Homo sapiens: one gene and its partners. The protein of the gene in region 1 purifies or fractionates together with the protein of each later gene. This does not show direct contact. Each region holds a gene or a part of one and is shown in the gene's direction. Other genes may lie near its edges. The genes, in order: DMD, ABCA1, USP33, SIRT5 and SIRT2.

Region 1 (5,841 bases):
ATTATGCCTTTAAGAAAGTCACTCTTTGCAACTATCTACAAAGTCAAATTTCATTTATGTAGGAATCCTAAAAAATAATCTTAGTGCCCTTGAATAAGAACTGCTACTTTCATATTAAGCAGTGTAGTGTATGGCTTCAAGTCCCCAGGTGACTCATCTGGTTTGTGCAGGAAGAGCAGGATAAACTTAATTTTTCTATAATAATATCTAGGAAGTTCTTGAGACTAGACATGTGGAAAGTTTTGTGAAACTTTTTTTTTGTATATGCTTTGCAATAATCACTATTTGCATGCATGGCTGATTTTCTAATACTTTTAATTGCTGAGCTTTTCCTTGTAAATCACTCTTTTGAGCTATGTAGTTATGAAGGTGGATCCACCTAGCAGGTAGATGGAGTCTGCTTTCTACATGCAAATAAGAGAATAAAACCTTTCCCCCTATAGTCAACCAAATAAACACTGCTGAGAATGTAATTACACAATATTGTGCCTGCAAGGAATCCACAAGGAAAGTCTAATTGGCCAGCAGGTGTTCTGAAGGTAACTGCTGATAAATATAGTAAACAGAAAAGGCCTCTTCCTCGAGGGAGTGCAAAAGCACACCATAATGTGTCTAGAAAATCGGAACGCTATGTAACTCACACCCTTCCAACTGTGAGCAAGCTTTCAGAAGTATCTACACTGGTCGTATGATGGTGTGTGTCCTACTGAATAGCAGTGTTTAATGGTCATCTGGCATTCCTCTAAAGAAATCTACATGACATCTCTAAATATTTTACATATTATACATCACTTTGTGCTTAGGAAATGAAAGATGTTTCAGATTGATGACCACCAAGCCCTTTCTCCTGGCAAAGATGTGAGTTATGTCACAAATAAGGCATGGCTCAACTCTAATTCACGTGGCTGTATCTTGCTACCTTTGAAAAAAGCAGCGTTCGATCTGACTCCTCAGAAGGTTTGAAAATTCAACATAAAACATAAAGTACAGCAAGGTTTAAATTCCCAATTTTAAACAAACTAGATAATGAAATGTAGTTCATTCTTGCAAATACAGGCTATAAGTGATTAATCAAAATCGTCAACACTACTCGCCAAACCAATCTATACCAACATATTCAATAACTTTTTAAACCTGTCAAATAGTTCCAATTCTGGTCCTTATGAAATATTTTAGAGAAGGTCAAAATTTTCCAATGGAATGAAATTTTTAGAAATTCCCTGATATTTATTATTTTTTCGCTCGAATTAAACCTGTGAATAAAACCCTAATTGCTACTTTCTGTAGAAATGAAAGCTGCATGCAGAGCTTATGTTCCCATGAATTATAAAATGGCATTTTGAGTAATTCTATTAATCACAGAAGATATTGAGTGTGCTTGTAAAGAGCATGATGACTGATTTCCTCCCATTGTTGATTTATTAAATTAGTCTTATCACATTGATTTGAAAGCATGCACTTGCTGTTTTCTTTTTTCAAATAGTTAATTGTTTTGCATTTAGAGCATGATTTGGTATAGTAAGATAAATGTGGCTATGCAAGCCTTGGAAGGAGAAGCATTTATCTCACATAATTTTTTATTAGTTATGTTCACCAATATACGAACAGTGGTGACACTTCTACACATACAGCTTGGAACAGTTTATAAGACAACTAAAATGGCTTTATATTTCTAATCATAAAATATTAATGGCCTATGAAACTCTTATGTAGGCATTTCTAAAAACATGAATGTATATTGGTTGAGTACATAAAGTTTTGTTGATGAGCCCCAAGGCTAAAGATATACATTTTAGAATTTTACCTATTTTAAGTCAGATACAAACTCACTAGGTTTGTGAGTTTGTATCTAGTTAAGTCAATTGTATTCGTATATTAAACTCTTGCACATAAACTACACAACAGTTAGCTCATTAAGAGTCAATTGAATGTGACAAAATTTTTAAGCAAGTTTGAACATGCTAAGAGAAAATACTTTAAGTGTGTTATTCAGGTTTCTTAGCTTCCTATACATGGGTCCCGCCTCATGCATAGGCAATTTAATTATGTCTTTGTATATTTTGCATTTAAATATGATTTTAACCTAAGTTGTACAAAAAGATGAGGGACGCAAATTATTTTGATAAATAACTGCAGCCAGAAGTGCACTATACATATATATTGATATTTTAATAATGTCTGCACCATGAACAGGATTTGAGGTCTCAAAGAAGAAAAAAGGCTCTAGAAATTTCTCATCAGTGGTATCAGTACAAGAGGCAGGCTGATGATCTCCTGAAATGCTTGGATGACATTGAAAAAAAATTAGCCAGCCTACCTGAGCCCAGAGATGAAAGGAAAATAAAGGTAATGTTGTTTTAGAATGTCAATACCAGATTTTATTATACAGTTTAATTAACCTGTGAAGATCATATTTAAAATGTTGATGTTCTTGTTTCTATTAACGTTCTCTTTGATTTGATGCATTTCCTTGTATTGTGTGTTGTTTTCAGTAAATGTATTGTATTAAGTGTTATTCAATTGACGTAATGTTGAATGAATAAAATGTTTTAGACTATGTAAAGTGATTTAAGAAATGTGATGTGTTTTCTGGTAAAATTGTAATTGACTTTGTGTATCTTTGTTCCAGATGAACTAATGACTTATCGGTATATGGACGACTTCTTACTCATGTTAGCCCATTCATTTCATCAGAGCATCTTCACACATCAGTGTTCACTCTCTATAGATTTATTTGCATATTGTCTAAATATGTTTTTTTCTGTTATTATTTTACACTTTTTATTTTGCTTCATTCTCTGTTGAGTTCCTCAAACCTTTAAAAAGGAAATAAATAACTTATTCACTTACCCTCTAAATTATATTCTATGTGGACGGTCCCTAATAAATAATGAGTTATCACTCCAAATTGTTTCAAATCCCAAGACACCAGAGGAATTTAGAAGAAAGAAAATGTTAGACCAATTTCAATATTTACTTAATTAGAATATCTAAAACCAAGCATTCAAAGGATAACTGAAATAATATTTGGGTTATTGAGCGAGGATGACAGTCATGCCTTTCATATTTGTAAACTTCAAAGGATGACAATAAAGGGACAACAGCCTTTGAAATTTTGAGAGAAGTATTTGCTGCTTGCAAGTCGGTTGATGTGGTTAGCTAACTGCCCTGGGCCCTGTATTGGTTTTGCTCAATAGGAAATTGATCGGGAATTGCAGAAGAAGAAAGAGGAGCTGAATGCAGTGCGTAGGCAAGCTGAGGGCTTGTCTGAGGATGGGGCCGCAATGGCAGTGGAGCCAACTCAGATCCAGCTCAGCAAGCGCTGGCGGGAAATTGAGAGCAAATTTGCTCAGTTTCGAAGACTCAACTTTGCACAAATTGTGAGTTGTTACTGGCAAACCCACGTATGTGTTTGCAACTACTACTCTATTAACAGAGGCCTACTAATAAAAAAAAAAGAGACAAAAAATCTGGGTACAGTTTTAAACTTCTAATGTACATTCTGAAAGTGAGTGGTTTCCCTCACTTTGGGCTTCTGTAACACTAGTGCTTAATTTTGCCAATTAAAGACACAAGAAATTAACAGATAACAGGGAAAACCCCTTATCAAAAATGAAAATACATCTTAATTTTTTTTGCTACATCATTTTTCATAACATTGGCAATGTTAATTTGTCAATTTATCATACATTCACTTTACTTCAATGTCTAATCCAAAAAATATGTATTGCTTTCCTGAGATCATCCCATGCTGATTTTACTTTCTTAATGTATACATGATAAATAATAAATATTTCATGGTACATCTTATGTCAACCTGCATAAGCCATTATCTCATTGACTTGAAGAATAATAGCTTAATCCTCACACCTGGTTTAACTACTTAATGGGTTACAGTGCCCATAAAAGAACTGGATGCCTAGTAAGATGGTTGCTAATTGATTGCAGATTGAACAATATCAGATAATGTTATTACTGAAATGTTACCAGCCAAAACAAAAAGGAGTGACTGCTCTTCTTTCAAACAACTGAATGGAAAGTGTATGGTTCTCTCTTTAAAAAGGCGATTCAGAATTGTTAGCTTGGTCTCACTTCTTTATTTGTAGTAGGTATAAACCATAGAGGTTTTCTGACAGGTACATTTTTGTTCCTATTATTAACACTTGTAAGATGAAGAGGAATGATCATCATCTGTAATTATAGAAGAAAGTACTCCTCACAAAACCAGGATGTCAAAATCTGGAAACTAAGTCTTTATAGTTAAGTTAGGTTGAATTATATGAATCAAACAGATACTCAACCATTTTGCCCTATGTAAATAATAACTGCATAGGGTTCAGCCCATGTATGAGACTTCTTGGGAACTTCTTCTGTGATAGTGTCAGTTCCATTTAATTTGGTGTATATTTTTAAAATGTCAAAAGCAGTTACCATAACTTAATTTTATAAGCATATAAGGGAAGTATGTTGCATATTATTGTGACTTCTTTTAATACTTCAAGAAAATTAATAAATACACTGTTTTCTGTTAAATCTAATACCCTAAAGTTTAATAGCAGGTGAATTATTCTGAGCAATTGGAAGAATACGAGAAATAGCGAAACTGTATTGCATGTGAAGTCTAATTCCACCTGGCTGAATGTTTCAGCCTATTATCCTTCATATTAGATGTTATGAATGTAATGTGTCATAAATAACCTTACACTAACCAGCAAGCCTGTGTCTGCAGATGCAAAATGAAGCGAAAGATTAAGGCAATCAAAAAGAAAATTCTAATAAAATAGTTTCACCTCAATTTAATAGATCATTCAAGGGGGAGTCCTTTGCTTTGAATTATCTGACTACTAACTCATTTCTCCATTCCAATTTTCCCCAGGTCTTGACACACCCAATATGCAGGTTTAAAATTCGTTACAAACTAATCAAGTTGCTAATGCTTTATGGCTAAATAGGCACAGGATCAAAAATCTCCATAAACCACTTACTTAAAATGCCATTATGTCCCTATTCATAGTAGGCTCTCAACAAATATTTGTACAACGTAATAATGACTGGTGAAATAAAGGAAGCATGTGTGAACCAGTATATATTTTTAAAAAATTGTAGTAAAATTCTGGGATATATTTTCCTCATAAACGATTTATTCTTAAGTTTTATATATTAAAGATCCAAAATTCAGAATGTGAAGGGGGCTATTTTTGTGTTAACTCTTAATTATCCATGATAATAAAGTAATCACAATCTGTATGAAGAATAATCAATTTAATATTGCAGTTATATTTGGCATCGTATTTTAATTAGAACTGAGGGATAATTGATAGATGATAAGTAGGTATATAGGTTGGTAGGTAGATAGATAGACAGGTGGGTGTAGAAATATTCAAGATACATCTTTATACTTGACCAATTGTCAATGCATTTTAAAACTAATTTCACTGTGGCCACTGATTAGAGTTATCTTTCCCAATTCTTACGCCCTAGAGTCATTTGTGATAGTCACAGTAACAGCTTAATGAAAAGTAGTATTTGATATAACCTTACAATGGCTCTGATGCAGCATATGCCATAGCTTCAGAATTTCTTACCTCCCCCTATATTCTCCTTCTCTAATTGTTTGATTTTTACTTTTCCTAACTGTCCCTTTTTGTTTTTCTAGATATAAACTGTAGGCTTAAAGTTCATCTTTCATGTCTTTACAGCAACATGTTGAAATAGTAAGCGGTACTCTTAAAATGCTTAGTATGTGAGAGCTGAGTGAGTTTAAAATGAAAAATTAATTTTCCTTATCTCACAGATAAAGACTCAGAGAAGTGCTAACCACTGTAAAATTAAGGCATTTAG
Region 2 (5,841 bases), on another chromosome or scaffold:
CTAATCATGAGTGTCTTTCCACGTGCTAGTTTGCTAGATGTTATTTCTTCAGCCTAAAACAAGCTGGGGCCTCAGATGACCTTTCCCATGTAGTTCACAGAATTCTGCAGTGGTCTTGGAACCTGCAGCCACGAAAAGATAGATTACATATGTTGGAGGGAGTTGGTAATTCCCAGGAACTCTGTCTCTAAGCAGATGTGAGAAGCACCTGTGAGACGCAATCAAGCTGGGCAGCTGGCTTGATTGCCTTCCCTGCGACCTCAAGGACCTTACAGTGGGTAGTATCAGGAGGGGTCAGGGGCTGTAAAGCACCAGCGTTAGCCTCAGTGGCTTCCAGCACGATTCCTCAACCATTCTAACCATTCCAAAGGGTATATCTTTGGGGGGTGACATTCTTTTCCTGTTTTCTTTTTAATCTTTTTTTAAAACATAGAATTAATATATTATGAGCTTTTCAGAAGATTTTTAAAAGGCAGTCAGAAATCCTACTACCTAACACAAAAATTGTTTTTATCTTTGAATAATATGTTCTTGTTTGTCCATTTTCCATGCATGCGATGTTAGGCATACAAAATACATTTTTTAAAGAATACTTTCATTGCAGATTGGAAACTTCGTTTAAAAAATGCTCATACTAAAATTGGCATTTCTAACCCATAGGCCCACTTGTAGTTATTTACCGAAGCAAAAGGACAGCTTTGCTTTGTGTGGGTCTGGTAGGGTTCATTAGAAAGGAATGGGGGCGGTGGGAGGGTTGGTGTTCTGTTCTCTCTGCAGACTGAATGGAGCATCTAGAGTTAAGGGTAGGTCAACCCTGACTTCTGTACTTCTAAATTTTTGTCCTCAGGTCAATCCTGACCGGGTTGTTCCCCCCGACCTCGGGCACCGCCTACATCCTGGGAAAAGACATTCGCTCTGAGATGAGCACCATCCGGCAGAACCTGGGGGTCTGTCCCCAGCATAACGTGCTGTTTGACATGTGAGTACCAGCAGCACGTTAAGAATAGGCCTTTTCTGGATGTGTGTGTGTCATGCCATCATGGGAGGAGTGGGACTTAAGCATTTTACTTTGCTGTGTTTTTGTTTTTTCTTTTTTTCTTTTTTATTTTTTTGAGATGGAGTCTCGCTCTGTAGCCAGGCTGGACTGTAGTGGCGCGATCTCGGCTCACTGCAACCTTGGCCTCCCAGGTTCAAGCGATTCTCCTGCCTCAGCCTCCCGAGTAGCTGGGACTCTAGGCACACACCACCATGCCCAGCTAATTTTTGTGTTTTTAGTAGAGACGGGGTTTCACCATGTTGGCCAGGATGGTCTCAATGTCTTGACCTCGTGATCCGCCCACCTCGGTCTCCCAAAGTGCTGGGAACACAGGCATGAGCCACTGTGTCTGGCCACATTTTACTTTCTTTGAATATGGCAGGCTCACCTCCGTGAACACCTTGAGACCTAGTTGTTCTTTGATTTTAGGAGAAGTGGGAGGTGAATGGTTGAGCTGTAGAGGTGACATCAGCCCAGCCAGTGGATGGGGGCTTGGGAAACATTGCTTCCCATTATTGTCATGCTGGAGGGCCCTTTAGCCCATCCTCTCCCCCGCCACCCTCCTTATTGAGGCCTGGAGCAGACTTCCCAGACCTGGTAGTGCTTCAGGGCCCTGGTATGATGGACCTATATTTGCTGCTTAAGACATTTGCTCCCACTCAGGTTGTCCCATCAGCCATAAGGCCCCCAGGGAGCCCGTGTGATGGAGCAGAGAGAGACCTGAGCTCTGCAATCTTGGGCAAGGCTTTTCCCTTATGTTTCTTCTTATCTAAAGTGAACAGCTGGGGCTCATGTGCTCCCTCCTCATCTAAAGTGAACACATGGGGCTCATGTGCAGGGTCCTCCCCGCTTTCAGAGCCTGAGGTCCCCTGAGGCTCAGGAAGGCTGCTCCAGGTGAGTGCCGAGCTGACTTCTTGGTGGACGTGCTGTGGGGACAGCCCATTAAAGACCACATCTTGGGGCCCTGAAATTGAAAGTTGTAACTGCCTGGTGCATGGTGGCCAGGCCTGCTGGAAACAGGTTGGAAGCGATCTGTCACCTTTCACTTTGATTTCCTGAGCAGCTCATGTGGTTGCTCACTGTTGTTCTACCTTGAATCTTGAAGATTATTTTTCAGAAATTGATAAAGTTATTTTAAAAAGCACGGGGAGAGAAAAATATGCCCATTCTCATCTGTTCTGGGCCAGGGGACACTGTATTCTGGGGTATCCAGTAGGGCCCAGAGCTGACCTGCCTCCCTGTCCCCAGGCTGACTGTCGAAGAACACATCTGGTTCTATGCCCGCTTGAAAGGGCTCTCTGAGAAGCACGTGAAGGCGGAGATGGAGCAGATGGCCCTGGATGTTGGTTTGCCATCAAGCAAGCTGAAAAGCAAAACAAGCCAGCTGTCAGGTGCGGCCCAGAGCTACCTTCCCTATCCCTCTCCCCTCCTCCTCCGGCTACACACATGCGGAGGAAAATCAGCACTGCCCCAGGGTCCCAGGCTGGGTGCGGTTGGTAACAGAAACTTGTCCCTGGCTGTGCCCCTAGGTCCTCTGCCTTCACTCACTGTCTGGGGCTGGTCCTGGAGTTTGTCTTGCTCTGTTTTTTTGTAGGTGGAATGCAGAGAAAGCTATCTGTGGCCTTGGCCTTTGTCGGGGGATCTAAGGTTGTCATTCTGGATGAACCCACAGCTGGTGTGGACCCTTACTCCCGCAGGGGAATATGGGAGCTGCTGCTGAAATACCGACAAGGTGCCTGATGTGTATTTATTCTGAGTAAATGGACTGAGAGAGAGCGGGGGGCTTTTGAGAAGTGTGGCTGTATCTCATGGCTAGGCTTCTGTGAAGCCATGGGATACTCTTCTGTTATCACAGAAGAGATAAAGGGCATTGAGACTGAGATTCCTGAGAGGAGATGCTGTGTCTTTATTCATCTTTTTGTCCCCAACATGGTGCACTAAATTTATGGTTAGTTGAAAGGGTGGATGCTTAAATGAATGGAAGCGGAGAGGGGCAGGAAGACGATTGGGCTCTCTGGTTAGAGATCTGATGTGGTACAGTATGAGGAGCACAGGCAGGCTTGGAGCCAACTCTGGCTGGCCCTGAGACATTGGGAAAGTCACAACTTGCCTCACCTTCTTTGCCGATAATAATAGTGGTGCTTACCTCATAGAGGATTAAATTAAATGAGAATGCACACAAACCACCTAGCACAATGCCTGGCATATAGCAAGTTCCCAAATAAAATGCTACTGTTCTTACCTCTGTGAGGATGTGGTACCTATATATACAAAGCTTTGCCATTCTAGGGGTCATAGCCATACAGGGTGAAAGGTGGCTTCCAGGTCTCTTCCAGTGCTTACCCCTGCTAATATCTCTCTAGTCCCTGTCACTGTGACAAATCAGAACTGAGAGGCCTCACCTGTCCCACATCCTTGTGTTTGTGCCTGGCAGGCCGCACCATTATTCTCTCTACACACCACATGGATGAAGCGGACGTCCTGGGGGACAGGATTGCCATCATCTCCCATGGGAAGCTGTGCTGTGTGGGCTCCTCCCTGTTTCTGAAGAACCAGCTGGGAACAGGCTACTACCTGACCTTGGTCAAGAAAGATGTGGAATCCTCCCTCAGTTCCTGCAGAAACAGTAGTAGCACTGTGTCATACCTGAAAAAGGTGAGCTGCAGTCTTGGTGCTGGGCTGGTGTTGGGTCTGGGCAGCCAGGACTTGCTGGCTGTGAATGATTTCTCCATCTCCACCCCTTTTGCCATGTTGAAACCACCATCTCCCTGCTCTGTTGCCCCTTTGAAATCATATCATACTTAAGGCATGGAAAGCTAAGGGGCCCTCTGCTCCCATTGTGCTAGTTCTGTTGAATCCCGTTTTCCTTTTCCTATGAGGCACAGAGAGTGATGGAGAAGGTCCTTAGAGGACATTATTATGTCAAAGAAAAGAGACTTGTCAAGAGGTAAGAGCCTTGGCTACAAATGACCTGGTGTTCCTGCTCATTACTTTTCAATCTCATTGACCTTAACTTTTAAACTATAAAACAGCCAATATTTATTAGGCACTGATTTCATGCCAGAGACACTCTGGGCATGAAAGAAAGTAATGATAATAGTTAATTTTATATAGCGTTGTTACCATTTACAACCTTTTTTTTTTTTTTAACCTCTATCATCTCAATTAAAGTGCAGAGAGACCCTGGGAAGAAGGTAACTATATTTATTATCCCAGATGAGGGAAGTGAGGCTTGTAGGGAATTGGTAGCTGATTCAAGGTCACCCAGCAGGTAAATAACAGTGGTGGGACCAGACCCAATTACCAGGTATGTTTTCCTCTGTACCGCAGTACATGCCTGAGATTTATTTGTGTGTTGAAGCCAGTGGTACCTAATGTATTTACATCCCAACCTGAAACTCCTATCCACTTATTTACCTTTTAATGAGCCTCTTAACTCAAGTGCAGTCTGAGGACCAGCAGCATCAGGATCACTTGGGAACTTGTTAGAAATTCAGCAACCTGGGCCCAGCTCAGACCTACCGAATCAGAATCTGTGCATTTTAACAAGGTTCTTGAGTGGTTGAACACACATTAAAGCATGAGAAGCATTGAACTAGACATGTAGCCAGGTAAAGGCCTTGCCTGAGATGGTTGGCAAAGGCCTCATTGCAGCATTCATTGGCAGGCCACAGTTCTTTTGGCAGCTCTGCTTCCTGACCTTTCACCCTCAGGAAGCGAGGCTGTTCACACGGCACACACATGCCAGACAGGGTCCTCTGAAGCCACGGCTGCCAGTGCATGTGTCCCAGGGAAAGCTTTTTCCTTTAGTTCTCACACAACAGAGCTTCTTGGAAGCCCTCCCCGGCGAAGGTGCTGGTGGCTCTGCCTTGCTCCGTCCCTGACCCGTTCTCACCTCCTTCTTTGCCATCAGGAGGACAGTGTTTCTCAGAGCAGTTCTGATGCTGGCCTGGGCAGCGACCATGAGAGTGACACGCTGACCATCGGTAAGGACTCTGGGGTTTCTTATTCAGGTGGTGCCTGAGCTTCCCCCAGCTGGGCAGAGTGGAGGCAGAGGAGGAGAGGTGCAGAGGCTGGTGGCGCTGACTCAAGGTTTGCTGCTGGGCTGGGGCTGGGTGGCTGCGGGTGTGGGAGCAGCTTGGTGGCGGGTTGGCCTAATGCTTGCTGGGGTGCCTGGGGCTCGGTTTGGGAGCTAGCAGGGCAGTGTCCCAGAGAGCTGAGATGATTGGGGTTTGGGGAATCCCTTAGGGGAGTGGACACTGAATACCAGGGATGAGGAGCTGAGGGCCAAGCCAGGAGGGTGGGATTTGAGCTTAGTACATAAGAAGAGTGAGAGCCCAGGAGATGAGGAACAGCCTTCCAGATTTTTCTTGGGTAGCGTGTGTAGGAGGCCAGTGTCACCAGTAGCATATGTGGAACAGAAGTCTTGACCCTTGCTATCTCTGCCTAGTCCTAATGGCTGGCTTTTCCCAGGAAGGCTTCTGCTTCCATGGACTGTTAGATTAACCCTTTATTTAGGTAAATGAGGGAACCTACTTTATAAGCATAGGAAAGGGTGAAGAATCTTTTAAGATTCCTTTACTCAAGTTTTCTTTTGAAGAATCCCAGAGCTTAGGCAATAGACACCAGACTTTGAGCCTCAGTTATCCATTCACCCATCCACCCACCCACCCACCCATCCTTCCATCCTCCCATCCTCCCATTCACCCATCCACCCATCCAGCTGTCCACCCATTCTACACTGAGTACCTATAATGTGCCTGGCTTTGGTGATACAAAGGTGAATAAGACATAGTCCTTTCCTT
Region 3 (5,841 bases), on another chromosome or scaffold:
AACTATTACATAGACCTGCATGGTTTATTGAATAACTTATAAACCACAAAGGAAATTAAATTTACAGTGTTTCTGAAGTTCAAACTTTTAAACTGTTTCATTCTATCCTAGCAAGTTCTAAACTTTTTTTGGGAAAGTGTTCTCAAACCTCAAAGTTGAATTAAGAGCATGAAAAGCCCTGTTATTAAAAAGGTACAACCAAAAGATCTAGGAATACCAAATTAGACTTGAGACCTTTGGAAATCACTCGCTTTACTTGAACCAAACACTGTGGATCAGTAAAGTTTGCATCTCTTAGCCTTATGTGCAAATGAAGCTAATAATGGTGCCTATTTCAGGGGTTGTAAAGATCATGAAAATGGGGTTCTCAAACCTGGAGAGATTTTGTCCCCCAGAGGGTATAATTTAAAACAGTCTAGAGACACTGGTCATCAGAGTTCAGAGTGGTGGCAGGGATGGTCTGTCTGTCTCTTGTGGATAGAAGTGGGAATGTTGCCAAATAACCTGCAGTGCACAGGACAATCCCTCACAGCGAAGAATTATCTGGCCCTAAGTGTCAATAGTGCCGGGATCGAGAAACCCTGATATAAAGTGCTTATCCTGGTATAAGGCCAGGATACCAGATGATTTAATTTATGCCATCAGTAGGGGGTCCTATTAGTAGAAAAATGAAGCTTTCTACTTGAAGTTTTTTTTTTTCAACTCCTAGTCCAGCCTAAGGATTAATTTTTTTTTTAAAAGGATAAAAGTGCTTCACAGTTGAATAACTTGAATATTCCCCCCTTTTATTTATCTATAAAAAGTGAAATGAGAGGGGAAAAGCAGCAAAAGTCATGGAGAAACAAACTTACATTTGTTTATAGATGTCAATTTTAATAAAATGTTTATGTAGTAGAGAAATTTCCAGTGTTCAGATTAACTTCAATTCTGAAAACTCATCTATGTTTGAGAATACACTCTTTTTACAGGGCAAACTTATATCATTCTTATGTTATCTTTTAATCATTTTTAATATGTTAACATTTTAATTTTTTTATTTTTTGGAATCTTTGCAGGCATTGTAAGCATTTATTAATTTTTTTGTGTGTGTTACTTTTCTTATAGGTGTTACCTCATTTTGAAAGTCTTGGGAAACAGGAAAAAATTCCTAACAAAATGTCAGCTTTTCGAAATCATTGTCCACATTTGGATTCAGTTGGTGAAATAACAAAAGAAGATTTGATACAAAAATCCCTTGTAAGAAACAGGTTTTTTCTTCCTTGAAAAACTATTCACTTTTCTCTTGAATGTGTAATTTTCATAAATTACTGTAATACTCTATGAGCAGTATTTTAAAAATATGTATGATGTCATTAGTGCATTAGTGAATTGTATGTGTTTGTGTCAATATAACCAATGTTGTCTTTTTAATTTCTTTTTATAGGGTACTTGTCAGGATTGTAAAGTCCAAGGACCAAATCTTTGGGCATGTCTGGAGGTGTGTATATGTTTTTTCCTGAAAAGATTGCTATAATAATAATAAATTTGGATCTGAATAATCATAACCAGAAAATTTTTGATACTTAAAGTGATTTTTGTAAATTAAACTTGCTTTTAAAAGGTCATTATTAATAACAAAAATTAAACTTTGGAAAGATCTTAATCTGTAGTGCTTTTGTAGTTTTTAGTAAATCACTCAGCTATTTTATGCTTGCCTTTTATTAGAAATGACATAGCTTTTAGCTTAGAAATATATCCTGGTTTTATTTTGTGCCTGGAAACATTTGGTTAAATTTAATGACTGGAAAGTCATTTACTCATTGAATGTAAAACAGGTAATCCAAACTTAATTGTAAATGTAATTGTAATGCTGTTATAAATTTACATGTATATTATAAAGTACCTTATTTTTCTTCCTATATAATTATTTATAGAATAGATGTTCATATGTTGGCTGTGGTGAATCACAAGTAGATCACAGCACCATACATTCTCAGGTATGTATATAAAAAATTTAATGGAAGACTTGTTAAAAAAAGTGCCTGAAGGAAAGGGAAAGCCAGTATAACATTATTAATTCAAGTTGTAATTCAAATTTGCACTCTAAGTTAAAACTTCACTTACATTCTCTGTGAAGGATGGGGAAGGGAATTGCTAGGAGGATGAACATTAGAATGAGGTTGTGATTAAGAAAGCACTGATTTCAAAAGTGTACATCCGGCCAGGCATGGTGGCTCACGCCTGAATCCCAGCACTTTGGAAGGCCAAGGCAGGTGGATCACCTGAGGTCAGGAGTTCGAGACCAGCCTGGCCAACATGGCGAAACCCTGTCTCTATTAAAAGTACAAAAAAATTAGCTGGGTGTGGTGGTGGGCACCTGTAATCCCAGCTACTCGGGAGGCTGAGGCAGGAGAATTGTTTGAACCTGGGAGGCGGAGGTTGCAGTGAGCCGAGATCGTGCCATTGCACTCCAGCCTGGGCAACAAGAGCGAAACTCCATCTCAAAAAAAAAAAAAAAAGTGTATATCCAGATATTTGAAGGTGATAGCTGGCATATTAGGAGGTTGAAGCCCAAGAGAGAGTGGGTGCTTAGGTTTATGACATGGCCTGGCTAACTTCTTTAAGTCTCAGCTCATGTCATATTGCCTTTTCCTGCACATAGTCCTAACTGGACTCACCTTTCTGCTTTGCTCTGGTTGTTTGGTACTTCCCATGTAACTCTGGCATGCCTCTTCTATAGTGTTATGTAGAGCTCCCATTCTAAATGGAAAGTTTCTCGAATGACTTTGTTTTAAGATGCACATTGATACCTCTACAGCATCAACTGTTCTCAACCAGGATTCCTCTATAGAATTAATTAAGCCTGAATACCCAAGCTCTGAGTCATCATTGTATATCATTTGCCTCTTTCTGTGCATCTAAGATGGTATTTGCTGTGTACCACCATTGGGAGAATTGATAAATTAGTCACTCAGATCATTTTTTGTAGGGCTTAATTCTGTAGCAGAACTCTGGTTGTGAAAGGCTAGACTTTTATCTTTCCAAGATTATATATTCTGTATTGCTAGAGCTGTTTTATGCCTTGACTCATGTCATTTGTGTTCTTTTGCCATTCTGATTTCTTAGAATAGTTACTTGCTATTGTTAATTATTTTCTTGTGTTATATTTATTTGTAGACTGCAAAGCAAGGTCTTACACTCTTGCGTTTATCTTTTTGTATAATGAATAGTGAGGGGAGAATGGCAGAGTAATTTCTAGAGTAGGCTTAGATGTTGTTACTGTTTATTATACCTTAGAAGTTTATCTAAAGAATTTTTTTCATGTTCTAAATTAGCTTTTGAGTATATTGTTACTCATCAAAGGCAAGCAGTTTATCTTCTGTTATCTTTTGAAGAAGTCTTTTCAAGTATATGTAATTTTGGTTCCTCTTTTCCCTCTACTGTGAAATTATATAGGAGACAAAGCATTATCTAACTGTGAACCTTACCACTCTTCGAGTATGGTGTTATGCTTGCAGCAAAGAAGTATTTTTGGATAGGAAATTAGGAACTCAGCCTTCATTGCCTCATGTAAGACAACCTCACCAAATACAAGAAAACAGTGTCCAGGTAATAATCTAGATCCACTTAGTTAAGCTGTAAAACATTCCGGTAATAATTTCAGAATTTGTCATGTAGCTGAAATTTTCAAAAGGAATACTGCCTAACCTGTACTTTGAAAATTTCTGTAATGTGCCTTTTTTCTCTCAAATAAAGCACTCAGACTCCCCTTTCTTGTGTTGCTTAGAGTGCTAGATTAGGGTGAGATTGAAGCCCACCTGTTTGAAGATGGAAAAGGCCCTAATGAATTTTTGAAGTTTTTTTTTTTAAATGACTCAAGTAGTCTTTATCTTTTTCTGGTAAGTCTGATTTCAAGAAAGGTGGTGGGCCTTCTTTGATAGCATATGGCAGTTACTAATTCAGCTCTCTTCCCCGTTCTCTCCTCCCCTCCATCCCCTTTGTATTACTGTGAACATTTTACTTATTATTGACAACAAAGTAGAATATAATAAAGCTTAGCATCAGTCTTTGGGTTAAAGATTTTTCTCCCTTTGGGCTGGGTGCGGTGGCTCACGCCTGTAATCCCAGTGCTTTGGGAGGCCAAGGCGGCTGGATCACGAGGTCAGGAGATCGAGACCATCCTGGCTAACATGGTGACACCCCGTCTCTACTAAAAATACAAAACATTAGCCGGGTGTGGTGGCGGGCACCTGTATTCCCAGCTACTTTGGAGGCTGAGGCAGGAGAATGGCGTGAACCTGGGAGGCAGAGCTGGCAGTGAGCCGAGACCTTGCCACTGCACTCCAGCCTAGGTGACAGAGTGAGACTCCATCTAAAAAAAAAAAAGAAAAAAAGATTTTTCTCCTTTTGGATCAAGAGACTTAGAAAACACATGGGTTTGCTTGCAGAATTTATCACTTAATTTTCAGAATTCTTAAAGTCATAGAAAAATAGGAAAAAGGAAATTAACTTAGAATAGTTGGCTTCTTAATCAGATCATCAGTTGATCAGAATTTGATCAGATTTGATTAACAGCAAGTTTTTTTCCTCATGTGTGTTATAGAAATCACATATTTCTGTACTTGTTCATTGATACCAACTGTCAGGTTTTTCTGTTGTATGTTTGTATCACATTCTTATGGTAGATATTTGTGATAATAAATTTGCTTGCCTTACACATGAAAGATGGCTAGATTTTAGTCAAAGAATAATTTCTTGCATTTTCAGTTTCTCAGTTGAATGGCTCTAGTTAATTATAACCATTACTGTTTCTCCCACTTATACCTATTTATCATTCACAAACATGTTTAGTCTTTTTCAAAAGTCCAGATAGTATGAAAATGGCCGTTTCGTTGAATCCTCTTACATTATTAACAAAAGTTTGTCCCACTGAAGATAGCTGAATGGTAATAAGTAGAAAAAGTTTTAAAAAAGAAAAAAGTGTAATGTTATGACTAAAGTTTAATCACACAAGGAACTAATAATATATAAAGGCAAAACTATCAGCATCACTTACTAGAGAAGTAAGTTAAATAAGCTATCTGTTGCCATTTCTGCCAGAAAAGATCAAGATTACAAACTTTAATAAATGTTGAATCTGATAGAATAAGTATACTGATACTTTCCTGATGGCTTGTTAATAATTTTCTGATGACTTGTAAATATGTTAACACATAAAAGGCATAAACTTAATTTCATTCAACTTCCTTATGATCCCATTGTTGAAGAAATTATTCAGAAGAAAACAGTGGTTCAGATAGATTTCTTTAGTGGTCCAAAACTTATATGCTGTTGAAATCCAGTTTACCACAGGATATTTGCAAAATAGTAAAATATTGGAGGCCATGCAAATATTAATAAGATTTTTCAAATAGACATTTTTTCTAGATAGTAAAATTTCAGGTGATTTAAGCCTCTGTACTTCTGTGTATTTAGATATTTTGTAGTGAGCATGTATCTTTTTAAAAGCAATTACTTTATGAAAACAAAATGAAAGTATGAAGTCCACTCAAATGTCCAGTCTCTACAGATGTCAGGAAAGTAAAATCGTTGGGAATTAGTGCATATGCCTGCATTTTAGAGGTAAAGTAAGGCTATAATAACTTGGAGAACCAGAGTACATGCTAAATTCTTTCTGCTATTCAGTTTCCTTCTCTGTTTGGGTGTTGCTGAATGTTGGTTCATTGTAGTTCAATCTTCTGATATTACAAGAGAACTTTCAAATTTTGATTTTTATTTGTCGTCTCCGAATTTTTTAAACTTTAGCTCAAAGTTTTTTTCGTTTTTTTTTTTAAAGTGTTTACTAGCATTTGGCTAACAGGT
Region 4 (5,841 bases), on another chromosome or scaffold:
TGACAAAGTAGGTTTATTGGCTCACAAAACTGAGGAGCCTAGTGGTGCAGCTTATGTCATCTTTCCTCCCGGCCCCTGTCCCCCTCCTTCTTTCAGCTTTGCTCACTCTTTGAGGTGGCCTCCCTTCTCTCTCTGCAATTGATCTGTCTCCACGCGCCAAGGGAGAGTGCCTCCGACGGCTCCAGCTCAGCCACCTGCTCAGAAAATAAACCTCTGGGTAGGCTTGCTTGGTCCACACGCCCACCCTTCTGACCAAACACGACTGCAGAGGGATGGACACCACATGGGGGCCGTGCGCAGCATGTGGCTGAGCTTGTATTTGGGATGTGACCCACAGCCCTATTGGCTCAGCATGCGAGAGAGCAGGGATGGTGCTCCCCAAGGAAGGACTGGTGGGCAGGACGGAGCAGCGCATGTCCACTAGGGTTGAAAGTGCTCTGCACGGCACCAGTTGCCTGGTACCCATTTCATAAACTGTGGCCACCATGATTGCTTCAGCTCAATAAGTGGTGGTTAGTATTAACAATTACTTTTTTCACTTATTAGTTGATTACTTATTTATTGAGGTGCTTTTGTATAAAAGATTCAAGCTTTCTGAAATCGAAGTTAAAATTTTGTAAACATATCCCACGCCATTGAACCTTTGTCAGTCATGTCAATAAATCACGCCCTTAGATTTAGGTTGAGCTCCCTCTACCCTATTGGCAACTTCTGCCCACTTGAACACCACTCCAAGGTCATCTGATGGCACATTAGTCATGGAGTTATTTATTTTTCCTCCAGATTATAAAGTCCTTGAGGGCATATGCTCTTGACTGGCTTAAGAGTACTGCATGCCTCTGTTTCCCATGAAAGCTAAAGCTAGGGTAGGCCCATTTGCTAAAATGAAGTATGGCTCAGTGTGGCGGTGCACACCTATAGTCCCAGCTGCTCAGGAGGCAAAGGTGGGAGGATCGCTTGAGCCCATGAGTTGGAAGCTGCAGTGAGCTATGATCGTACTGCTACACTCCAGCCTGGGTAACTGGGTGAGACCAAAACATGAAATGAAGTGTGAAAAATAAAGTATCTTATACCCTTTTAGACATGGAGAAGGTTGCTCTTGATTATACTAAATTCTGGATTTGCTTCATATGTATTTTTCAGGTAGCTTATTTAAAACTCGATGTACCTCTTGTGGAGTTGTGGCTGAGAATTACAAGAGTCCAATTTGTCCAGCTTTATCAGGAAAAGGGTAATTATACCACACTACAGAATAAGTATAGGTTGTTTTCTCCTTTAGGTTGAACATAAATGTGAGGAAATTGAACATTCATCAAAGATTCCCATGGATATTTATGAGAAATAAGACTAAATACAAGGCTGGGTGCAGTGGCTCATGCCTGTAATCCCAGCACTTTGGGGTTACAAGGTGGGGAGACTGCTTGAGTTCAGGAGTTCAAGACCAGCCTGGGCAACACAGTGAGAAACCTGTCCTACAAAAAAACAAAACAAAACAAAAAACCACAAAAATTAGCTGGGTGTGGTGGCACATGCCTGTAGTCCCAGCTACTAGGGAGGCTGAGGTGGGAGGGTTATTTGAGCCTGGGAAGTCAAGGCTGCAGTGAGCTGAGATCATGCCACTGCACTACAGCCTGGGTGACAGAGGGAGACCCTGTCTCAAAAAACAAACAAACAAACAAAAAAACTAAATATAGCCATGTGATAAAAGAAATATTTTGCTCACAACTTACAGTGTTAAGTGAAAACCACAGGGTCCTAAATTTGTACACACAATGAGTTCGTGTATCTGTATATAGTTAAAAGACCAGAAGAAAATACAACAAAATGTTAATAAGGAATATCAGGAGTGGAGGGATTATGGGTAATTTTTAATTTCTTCTTTATATCTTTCTGAATTTTCCTATATTTCTATTATGAACATGTACTATTATTACAATGAGGAAAAAATTTGAGGGTAGACACAATATTGAGAAAAATTCCACTCAGCCTTTTAAAAACAGTATAAATTGTATAAGGACTATATAATGTCATTGCAGAGGATACAAATGATGATGATGATGATGTATAAAGGTAAACATGAAGTTCCCCCTTGGCACACCCAGCCACTCCAGCCCTCCCCACACATGCATTCCCTCACTGGCAGTACAACCACTGGTGATTTTTTTTTTTCTGAGACAGGTTCTTGCTCTGTTTCCCAGGCTGGAGTACAGTGGCACAATCACACCTTACTGCAGCCTCCAACTCCTGGGCTCGAGCAATCCTCCTGCCTCAGCCTCCCAAGTAGCTAGGACTATAGGCACACATCACCACACTCAGCTAATTTTTGTATTTCTGGTAGAAATGCAGTCTTACTGTATTGCCGAGGGTTGTCTTGAACTTCTGGCCTCAAGCAGTCCTCCCACTTTGGCCTCACCAAATGCTGGGATTACAGGCATGAGCCACTGTGCCCAGCACCACTGGTAATTAATGGCTTGGGGTCCTTCCTTCTAATGCCCTTCCAAGTGAGCATGTATTAATTAGGAGTTTTATACCACATACTGCCAGGCAAATATACAAACTGAGTTATGTTGTTTCTTTATTTTTTATTATGCCAATAACAATCTTTCTTTTCTAATATTATTTACTTCAGTGCTCCAGAACCTGGAACTCAAGATGCCAGCATCCCAGTTGAGAAACTTCCCCGGTAGGTAGAAAACTCTGATTTGTACTGGTGTTCCAGGTTACCAAAACAAAAAAAAAAACAGACATCAAAACCTAAACATGTATTTGGCAAGACGCCTCTTAAATCAAATGCACAAATGTAAAAACCAGGCTTGATCTCTGAGACCAAAAGTGAAAGGACAAAGGATGAACCAAATTAGGATGAAAAGAATGATTTTTTTCCAACCTCTTTTTGCTTTGTGTTGTGGTAGGATCATTTGAGGTCGGGAAAGTTTCTGAAGCTGTCGTGCGACAGGTGGTTACCCAGTGTACAGAAAGCATAGGGGCTGACCTGTAACTGGTCAAATAACATCACTGGCATTATTAATCCAGGGTTAGGGAGGCAATGAAAGGACCTGAATAGGAGAGGTTACAGGACCAAACAGAATGTTCATAGATTAAAAAAAAAAAAAAAAAAAAGGAAGATTTTTATGCCAATTTTTCAAAACCAGGCATTAAAACAGCACTTCTATAACCTGTAATTGGATTAGAAGTTTTTTTGTTGTGTTTATTTTATTTTATTTTTTTTTGAGATGGAATCTCACTCTGTCACCCAGGCTGGAGTGCAATGGTACGATCTTGGCTCACTGCAACCTCCACCTCCTGGGTTGAAGTGATTCTTCTGCCTCAGCCTCCCGAGTAGCTGGGATTATAGGCGCCCGCCACCACGCCTGGCTATTTTTTGTGTTTTTAGCAGGGATGAGGTTTCGCCATGTTGGCCAGGCTGGTCTCGAGCTCTTGACCTCAGATGATCCACCCGCCTCAGCCTCCCAACATGCTGGGATTACAGGCGTGAACCACTGCACCCGGCTGGATTAGAGTGTTTTTAAGGTAAAATAAAACAGCACTTCTAAAAGTGTTTCATAGAACATTAATTTAATGTTACGTTGAGACATTACTTGAAAAAAACATGTTAGGCACTCAAATAAATATGGAAATGTTAGACTAAACAAAGTTAAAATATGTTTGCTTTACTGCAGGACTTTTTAGAGCATTTAATCCACATTGCTGCCTTCTAAAAAGTGGTTGTAATACGTATGTTAATGCTTTACTGGCTTATTTAACCACAGAACCTTTTAAATTTTCCTCATGAGGGTTTTAATTGCTAAATATTAAAAGTTTTCTTCTGAAGGAATAGGTAGACCTGGAGGATTCCTGTGATGCAGGAGATTACTATGATGAAAATGGTGTTTGGGGGATGGTTTTAGGAGGTGTATAGAAGGTAACCCTGAGGTAGGAGGGAGTGAAAGAAGAGAGATTTTTAGTAATGGACACAGGAAAGCTGGCTACATACTGGGCCAGAGAGACATGAACCTGAGAGAACATGAAAGGAGGTCATTGATGAAATTAGGGGATGCTTGGGGTGGGAGGCAAATCTGAGTCCAGTATGTCTCCCAGGTCTGGGTGGCTGTGAGCACAAATGTGAGCATAATGAATGAACTGGGAAAGCTTAGCTGAAACAATGTGTCAGCACATCAAGTACATACAGACAAGATAAAAAATAAGGACAGTTCTGCAGGGCGCGGTGGCTCATGCCTGTAATCCCAGCACTTTGGGAGGCCGAGGAGGGCAGATCACCTGAGGTCAGCAGTTTGAGACCAGCCCGGCGAATGTGGTGAAACATGTCTCTACTAAGAATACGAAAATTAGCTGGGTGTGGTCACACATGACTGTAGTCCCAGCTGCTCGGGAGGCTGAGGCAGAATTGCTTGAACCTGGGAGGCAGAGGTTGCAGTGAGCGGAGACCATGGCATTGCACTTCCGCCTGGGCAGCAGAGTGAGACTCCGTCTCAAAAAAAAAAAAAAAAAAAAAGACCATTAAACCTGATGCTTCATAAGCAAGGCAAGTTTATATAGGCTGGGAGGGAGGGTGTAGGGAATAAGAGGCATCAGAGGTGACCCATCTGGATGTACTAGGTTTGGGGCAGCCCCTGGCCTCCCTCCGATCCAGCTGGGCAGACTTGGCTCGGGGTTGGCTTAAGGATCCCATTCTTCCAGGTGTGAAGAGGCAGGCTGCGGGGGCTTGCTGCGACCTCACGTCGTGTGGTTTGGAGAAAACCTGGATCCTGCCATTCTGGAGGAGGTTGACAGAGAGCTCGCCCACTGTGATTTATGTCTAGTGGTGGGTCATGCCCTTCCCTAACCCCAGGACAGGACTGGAGTTTGTTATTTTTTCCTTCCCCCTCTCCTCTTTTCCTTCCTCCCTCCCTTGCTTCTTTCCTTCCCGCCTTCTCTCCTCCCTCCATTTCTTCCTTTCCTTCAAATGTATGTTGAGAGGTCTTTGTGGTATCCTATAGAAAAACTGAGAAACAATGAATAAGAATTTGTATTAAAATAGGAAACCATGCATGTCTTGGGCATCTCAAAGCCTCCTCCCCCAGCCCCACCAAAAACAAAGAAAAGAACATGCTATTGGTTTTTTAAATAATACATGCTTATGATTAAATTTAATTGAGAACATGCAAAAATTATCACATTATAAAGAGGAAATTAGAAATCGCCCATAGTTCTGCTATCCAGAAATAGTTACCGTTAGCAGTTTAGTATGTTTTCTTCTAGACCCAGGAGTGAGCAAACAGCAGCCTTTGGGCCACATTGGGCCTGCTACCTGTTTTTGGAAATAAAGTTTTATTGGAACTCAGCCACACTCATTCTTCCACACACTGTCTATGACTACTTTCAAACTACAAGTGGCAGAGTTGAGTACTTGTGACAGAGATTGAATGGCCTGCAAAGCCTGAAAAATTTACTGTATGGTCATTTTCAGAATAAGTTTGCCCACCTCTGGTCTAAACCTTTTCTTATGCAGATGTACACGTATTAATTAAAATTCAAAACTGAGTTCATGACATATGTTCTGTTTTGAAACTACTTTGTTCACGCAGCAGTTCACTTAGCATGTTCCATATCAATATGTCTAAATCAATATCATCTTTCAATTGACTGTATGGTGTTATATATGGATAAGGAATGATATATTTAGCTAATTCTCTACTGTAAGACATTTGGGCTATTTCAAATTTTGATAGTTTAATCAATGATATCGTGAATATCCTTAGATAGAAATCTTAGCATGCTCTTCAAATGATTTCCTTAGGACACATTTCCTAAAAGTGGGATTCATTGGACAGATTGTATGCG
Region 5 (5,841 bases), on another chromosome or scaffold:
GCAGAGGGCAGCGGAGGCCTCCTTCTTCCAAGAGGAGGAGTCCTGTGATCCCCACACTTTGGGAGGCCAAAGTGGGAGATCGCTTGAGCCCATGAGTTCAAGACCAGCCTGGGCAACATAGGGAGACTCCGGGCTCAGAATAAACCTTCTGCCCAGAGAGTCACCATTATTCCAGGACGTGGCTCAGATATGATAACAGCTTGCTTGAAGCCAAGTGCTTTTTGTGGTTGATGTCATGACACTCACCCCAAGACCCCGCTGGCCCTTGTTTGTCAGCTTCTGTCAAAGTAAATGTTCACTGAGTTGATTCCCTACAGCAGGGAGGGAGATGATGGACAAGATGGAGACACCATATACTGAGCATATAAGATGGTCATGGGTCCCTGGAACACAGTTAAGCTGGAAGGGGAGTCAGAAACGGTGTATGTGTTCGGGAAAGGGGGTGCTGTTGTAAACCCCATCTCTACGAAAAATACAAAAATTAGCCAGGCGTGGTGGCACATGCCTGTAGTCCTAGTTACTCAGGAGGCTGAGGCATGAGAGTTGCTTGAACCTGGGAGGTGGAGGTTGCCCTGAGCTGAGATTGCCCCACTGCACTCCAGCCTGGGTGACAGAGAGAGACTCCGTCTCAAAAAAAGAAAAAAAATGACACATCACATACAAACTATTATATAAAGGCCAGGCGCGGTGGCTCACGTCTGTAATCCCAGCACTTTGGGAGGCCAAAGTCAACGTCAGGAGTTTAAGACCAGCCTGGCCAACATGGTGAAACCCTGTCTCTACTAAAAATACAAAAATTAGCTGGGTGTGGTGGTGCGTGCCTGTAATCCCAGCTACTCAGGATGCTGAGGCAGGAGAATCACTTAAACCTGGGAGGCAGAGGTTGCAGTGAGCCAAGATTCCGCCATTGCACTCCAACCTGGGCAACAGAGCAAGACTCCATCTCAAAAAAAAAAAAAAAAAAATTAGCCAGGCATGGTAGTGCACACCTGTAGTCCCAGCTACTTGGGAGCTTGAGAGAGGAGGATTGCTTGAGCCCAGGATTTCAAGGCTACAGTGAGCTATGATCAAGCTACTGTACTCCAGCCTGGACCAGTAGAGCAAAATCCTGTCAAAAGAAAAAAAAAAAAAAACCATGTTGTCAAAGAATAACAGAACGCAGAGGTATTTCGGTGGTTCTTTTCCACGCTGTTCAGTTATTTGCTTACTGTTCAGTTATTTGCAAATTGCTCACTCACATGTGAGGGAGTCAGTGGGTAGACTGAGTCAAGTACCAAAGGCAAAACCAAGATTTAGAATAGTGGGCAAGGGAGGAAAGTTACAGGGCGTGTGGGAACAGTGACAGTGACTCTTGTCTGTAGGCTTTGGAGATAAGGTGGTTGCTGGTAGGGAGCCCAGAAGGCAGTTAGAGCATTCTTTCTGCCCTTGAAGGGAAACAAACCCTTCCCGTTGTTTCTGGAGTCCCTGGGAAACGCTGTCAGTTTGGCCCTGGGCCACACATGCGAGCCATCTCTGCGTAACCTCTGCCAGTGTCCTCTGTCAGCACCTGTTTTAGCGGCATTCCTCACAGGCAAACAACAGCTGCTCCAAAGGGGGTGGTTGTTTTAAGAAAAATGAGCGCGCACAAATGTCTGTGCAGAAAAGAACATTCCCACCTGTTTAATATGGAAAGTCTCACTGTCTTAAAAGAAAACAGTGGCCGGGCGCAGTGGCTCACACCTGTAATCCCAGCACTTTGGGAGGCTGAGGTGGGCAGATCACGAGGTCAGGAGATCGAGACCATCCTGACCAACATGGTGAAACCCCGTCTCTACTAAAAATACAAAAATTAGCTAGGCATGGTGGCGCGTGCCTGTGTTCCCAGCTACCTGGAAGGCTGAGGCAGGAGAATCACTTGAACCTGGGAGGCGGAGCTTGCAGTGAGCCAAGATTGCGCCACTGCACTCCAGCCTGGCAACAGAGCAAGACTCCGTCTCAAAAAAAAAAAAAAAAATAGCCACGCATGGTGGCGGGTGCCTGTAATCTCAGCTACTTGAGAGGCGGAGGCAGGGAGAATTGCTTGAACTCAGGAGGCAGTGGTTGCAGTGAGCCGAGATAGCGCCATTGTACTCCAGCCTGGGCAACAAGAGTGAAACTCCATCTGAAAAAAAAAAAAAAGAAAAGAAAAGAAAAGAAAACAGTGGCTGGGCATGGTGTCTCACGCCTGTAATCCCAACGCTTTGGGAGGCTGAAGTGGGAGGATCACTTGAGCCCAGGAGTTCAAGACCAGCCCGGGCAAATAGGGAGACCACCCCACCCCCCATCTCTACAAAAATAATTAAAAAGATAAAAAATTAGCCGGGCATGGTGGCATTTGCCTGTAGTCCCAGCTACTCAGTGGGCTGAGGTGGGAGGATGGCTTGAGCCCAGGAGGTGAAGGCTACAGTGAGCTGTGATCAGACCACTACACTCCAGCCTGAGTGACAGAGCAAGACCCTGCCTCCAAAAAAAGAAAAGAACACAGGTGAATATGCCATCTATGAAACAGGCCATAGTAAGAAAGGACCCTGGCTACTAAAGGGGAAGATAGTGATTAAAGCCAAGGAAGGGCCAGGCATGATGACTCACACTGTAATCCCAGCACATTGGGAGGCTGAGGCAGAAGGCTCGCTGACCAGCCTGGGCAACATAGTGAGACCCCATCTCTACAGAAAATTTTAAAAATCAGCCAGATGTGGAGGCTGAGGTGGGAGGATTGCTTGAGCCCAGGAGTTGGAGGCTGCAGTGAGCTATGATTGTACCACTGCACTATAGCCTGGGCGACAGAGTGAGACCTTGTCTCAAATACATAAAAAAACATGGCTAGGCACAGTGGCTCATGTCTATAATCCCAGCACTTTGGGAGGCCGAGGCAAGCAAATCACGAGGTCCAGAGTTCGAGACCAGCCTAGCCAACATGGTGAAACCCCATCTCTACTAAAAATACAAAAATTAGCCAGTCATGGTGGTGCGTGCCTGTAATCCCAGCTACTTGGGAGACTGAGGCAGGAAAATCTCTTGAACCTGGGAGTCAGAGGTTGCAGTGAGCCGAGATTGTGCCACTGCACTCCAGCCTGGGTGACAGAGCAAGACTCCATCTCAAAAAACAAACAAACAAACAAACAAACAAACCACACCTAGTAAGCCCTCCTGATTCATTTATGTTAATGCTTGCCTAGAGCTGCCACATGCAGCTGTGCAGGGTGCGCACTGCACAAGGATGCCACATCTGAGGGGGCTCCATTAATAACAGAGACATTGTAAATGTATGTTAATTTCAGCAATTAATGACAGGTGGAAATAAAGCATCTGGCTCTAATAAAACAACATTTTTTTTCTGAAAAATGAAAGCAAATGGCCTGAATTTGCAGAATAAAAGCCACACAGGCTGTGGAGTGGCTGTGGGCCTGGCCTCATAGATATTTAGGTTTGGGCCCCTTTTTTTTTTTTTTTTTTTTTAATTTTTTGTAGAGACAAGCGTCTTGATATGTTGCTCAGGCAGGTCTTGAACTCCTGGCCTCAAGTGATCCTCCCACCTCAGCCTCCCAAAGTGCTGGGATTATAGGCGTGAGCCGCCATGCCCAGCCTGGCCCCTGCCTTTAAGCAGCCTTGACTGTCACCCTTTAAGTGGCACCATTGGGATGAACAGAAGAGTCTTCAGATAAACCCTGCCACTTGCTTCTCCTCCCTCCCTTCTCCACCTGTCCCCACCACCTCACTGCTCCTCGTGGCCCTCAACTCCCTACTGTGCCTTCTGGCCTACAAGGGGTGGCTCACTCCTCACCCCTCTTCCCTCCATCTCTCCCTCTAGAACATAGATACCCTGGAGCGAATAGCCGGGCTGGAACAGGAGGACTTGGTGGAGGCGCACGGCACCTTCTACACATCACACTGCGTCAGCGCCAGCTGCCGGCACGAATACCCGCTAAGCTGGATGAAAGGTGAGGCTGGAGGGCATCCTGAGGGCAGGCCTCCTCTCAGCACCAGGAGCAGTGTCTCCATGCAGTGGGCACCCATTCTGTCCTGCTCAATTCTTTGGGGTTTTTTTGTTTTGTTTGTTTGTTTTTGAGACAGAGTCTCACTCTGTCGCCCACGCGGGGAGTTCAGTGGGTGATCATGGCTCACTGCAGCCCAACTGCCTGATTTCCTGTCTTTGGCTGTTTTTAATATATGATAGTAGGCCAGGAGCAGTGGCTCACACCTGTAATCCTAGCACTTTGGGAGGCCAAGGCGGGCAGATCACCTGAGGTCAGGAGTTCAAGACCAGCCTGGCTAACATGGTGAAACCCCGTTTCTACTAGAAATACAAAAAAAAAAAAATTAGCCTGGTGTGGTGGCATGCGCCTGTAATCCCAGCTACTCAGGAGGCTGAGGCAGGAGAATCGCTTGAACCTGGGAGGCGGAGGCTGCAGTGAGCTGAGTTCGCACCATTGCACTCCAGCTTGGGCAACAAGAGCAAAACTCTGTCTCAAAAAAAAAAAAAAAAAAAAAACAAGAAGTCACTTATTCCACTCATGGAAAGCCATTTCTGACATTCTTTATGCTGATTTAACAAAGCCTCTGGTGTCCCTGTGAGATAAGGACAGCTGCAGCATTTGCAGAAGGGCCTCTGGAGTGTGGCTGTTCTGATAAAATGCCAGCTGAGTGCCCCTGGGCTGAGGATTCCTGAATAGCCCAACTGCAAGCAGCTGGGGGCAGTGTACAATTCACATTACCCCCATTATGTGTCATTGACAGCAGCGTCACAGGCAGCACCCACGGTGTCATGCTGTCCATGCAGAAATATTTTAAAGAAAATTACCGACTACTGACATTGAAACAATGCTTTATAAATGTGTGCTGAATGAATGAATGGACAGTTGAGCAAATGACTTAGAATTCAGTGGGTTGCAAGTGACAGAAATGCTTTCTTTCTTTCTTTTTTTTTTTTTTGAGATGGAGTCTTGCTCTGTCACCCAGGCTGGAGTGCAGTGGTGCAATCTCGGCTCACTGCAACCTCCGCCTCCCGGGTTCAAGCAATTCTCCCTGCCTCGGCCTCCCAAGTAGCTGGGATTACAGGCACGTGCTACAACCCCTGGCTAATTTTTATATTTTTAGTAGAGACGGGGTTTCACCACGTTGGCCAGGCTGGTCTCAAACTCCTGACCTCAAACGATCCACTCGCCTCAGCCTCCCAAAGTGCTGGGATTACAGGCGTGAGCCACCACACCCGGCCAGAAATGCTTTCAAGCTTCCTAAATCAATAAGAAATAAGGCCAGGCACAGTGGCTCATGCCTGTAATCCCAACACTTTTGGACGTCGAGGTGGGTGGATCACTTGAGCCCAGGAGTTTGAGAACAGCCTGGGCAACATAGGGAGATCCCATCTCTAAAAAAAATAAAATGTAGCCAGGTGCGATGGTGGATGCCTGTGAGCCCAGCTACTCGGGAGGCTAAGGCAGGAGGATCACTTGAGCCTGGGAAGTCGGTGGTGCAGTAAGCTATGATCACACCACTGCACTCAACCATGATTGCACCACCACACTCCAGCCTGGGCAACAGAGTGAGAACCTGTCTCAAAAAAACAAACAAACCAATAAGGCCGGGCGCAGTGGCTCACACCTGTAATTGCAGCTCTTTGAGAAGCCAAAGTGGGCAGATTTGCTTGAGCCCAGGAGTTTGAGACCAGCCTGGGCAACATGGCGAAACCCTGTCTCTACAAAAAATACAAAATTTAGCCGGGCGTGCTGGCATGCACCTGTAATCCCAGCTACTCAGGAGGCTGAGGCAGGAGGATCACTTGAAGCTGGGAGGTTGAGGCTACAGTAAGCCATGATCGTGCCA

The links.
Region 2: the proteins of DMD (region 1) and ABCA1 purify together in Homo sapiens (co-immunoprecipitation; one study listed by IntAct). This does not show direct contact.
Region 3: the proteins of DMD (region 1) and USP33 purify together in Homo sapiens (co-immunoprecipitation; one large-scale study listed by IntAct). This does not show direct contact.
Region 4: the proteins of DMD (region 1) and SIRT5 purify together in Homo sapiens (affinity purification with mass spectrometry; one large-scale study listed by BioGRID and IntAct). This does not show direct contact.
Region 5: the proteins of DMD (region 1) and SIRT2 purify together in Homo sapiens (affinity purification with mass spectrometry; 2 studies listed by BioGRID and IntAct, with this or other methods). This does not show direct contact.

Annotation. Positions count from the first base shown.
Region 1 is NC_000023.11:32,339,639-32,345,479, reverse strand, and holds part of DMD (dystrophin), read left to right. Parts: intron 1-2,193; coding exon 2,194-2,346; intron 2,347-2,629; coding exon of another isoform or gene 2,630-2,638; exon of another isoform or gene 2,639-3,113; intron 3,114-3,197; coding exon 3,198-3,380; intron 3,381-5,841. UniProt on the Homo sapiens protein: Anchors the extracellular matrix to the cytoskeleton via F-actin. Ligand for dystroglycan.
Region 2 is NC_000009.12:104,816,513-104,822,353, reverse strand, and holds part of ABCA1 (phospholipid-transporting ATPase ABCA1), read left to right. Parts: intron 1-847; coding exon 848-979; intron 980-2,284; coding exon 2,285-2,427; intron 2,428-2,630; coding exon 2,631-2,768; intron 2,769-3,470; coding exon 3,471-3,691; intron 3,692-4,949; coding exon 4,950-5,022; intron 5,023-5,841. UniProt on the Homo sapiens protein: Catalyzes the translocation of specific phospholipids from the cytoplasmic to the extracellular/lumenal leaflet of membrane coupled to the hydrolysis of ATP.
Region 3 is NC_000001.11:77,737,012-77,742,852, reverse strand, and holds part of USP33 (ubiquitin carboxyl-terminal hydrolase 33), read left to right. Parts: intron 1-1,104; coding exon of another isoform or gene 1,105-1,155; coding exon 1,156-1,236; intron 1,237-1,423; coding exon 1,424-1,477; intron 1,478-1,913; coding exon 1,914-1,976; intron 1,977-3,435; coding exon 3,436-3,588; intron 3,589-5,841. UniProt on the Homo sapiens protein: Deubiquitinating enzyme involved in various processes such as centrosome duplication, cellular migration and beta-2 adrenergic receptor/ADRB2 recycling.
Region 4 is NC_000006.12:13,594,334-13,600,174, forward strand, and holds part of SIRT5 (NAD-dependent protein deacylase sirtuin-5, mitochondrial), read left to right. Parts: intron 1-1,143; coding exon 1,144-1,231; intron 1,232-2,629; coding exon 2,630-2,683; intron 2,684-3,394; exon of another isoform or gene 3,395-3,531; intron 3,532-4,696; exon of another isoform or gene 4,697-4,698; coding exon 4,699-4,822; exon of another isoform or gene 4,823-5,308; intron 5,309-5,841. UniProt on the Homo sapiens protein: NAD-dependent lysine demalonylase, desuccinylase and deglutarylase that specifically removes malonyl, succinyl and glutaryl groups on target proteins.
Region 5 is NC_000019.10:38,881,745-38,887,585, reverse strand, and holds part of SIRT2 (NAD-dependent protein deacetylase sirtuin-2), read left to right. Parts: intron 1-3,829; coding exon 3,830-3,959; intron 3,960-5,841. UniProt on the Homo sapiens protein: NAD-dependent protein deacetylase, which deacetylates internal lysines on histone and alpha-tubulin as well as many other proteins such as key transcription factors.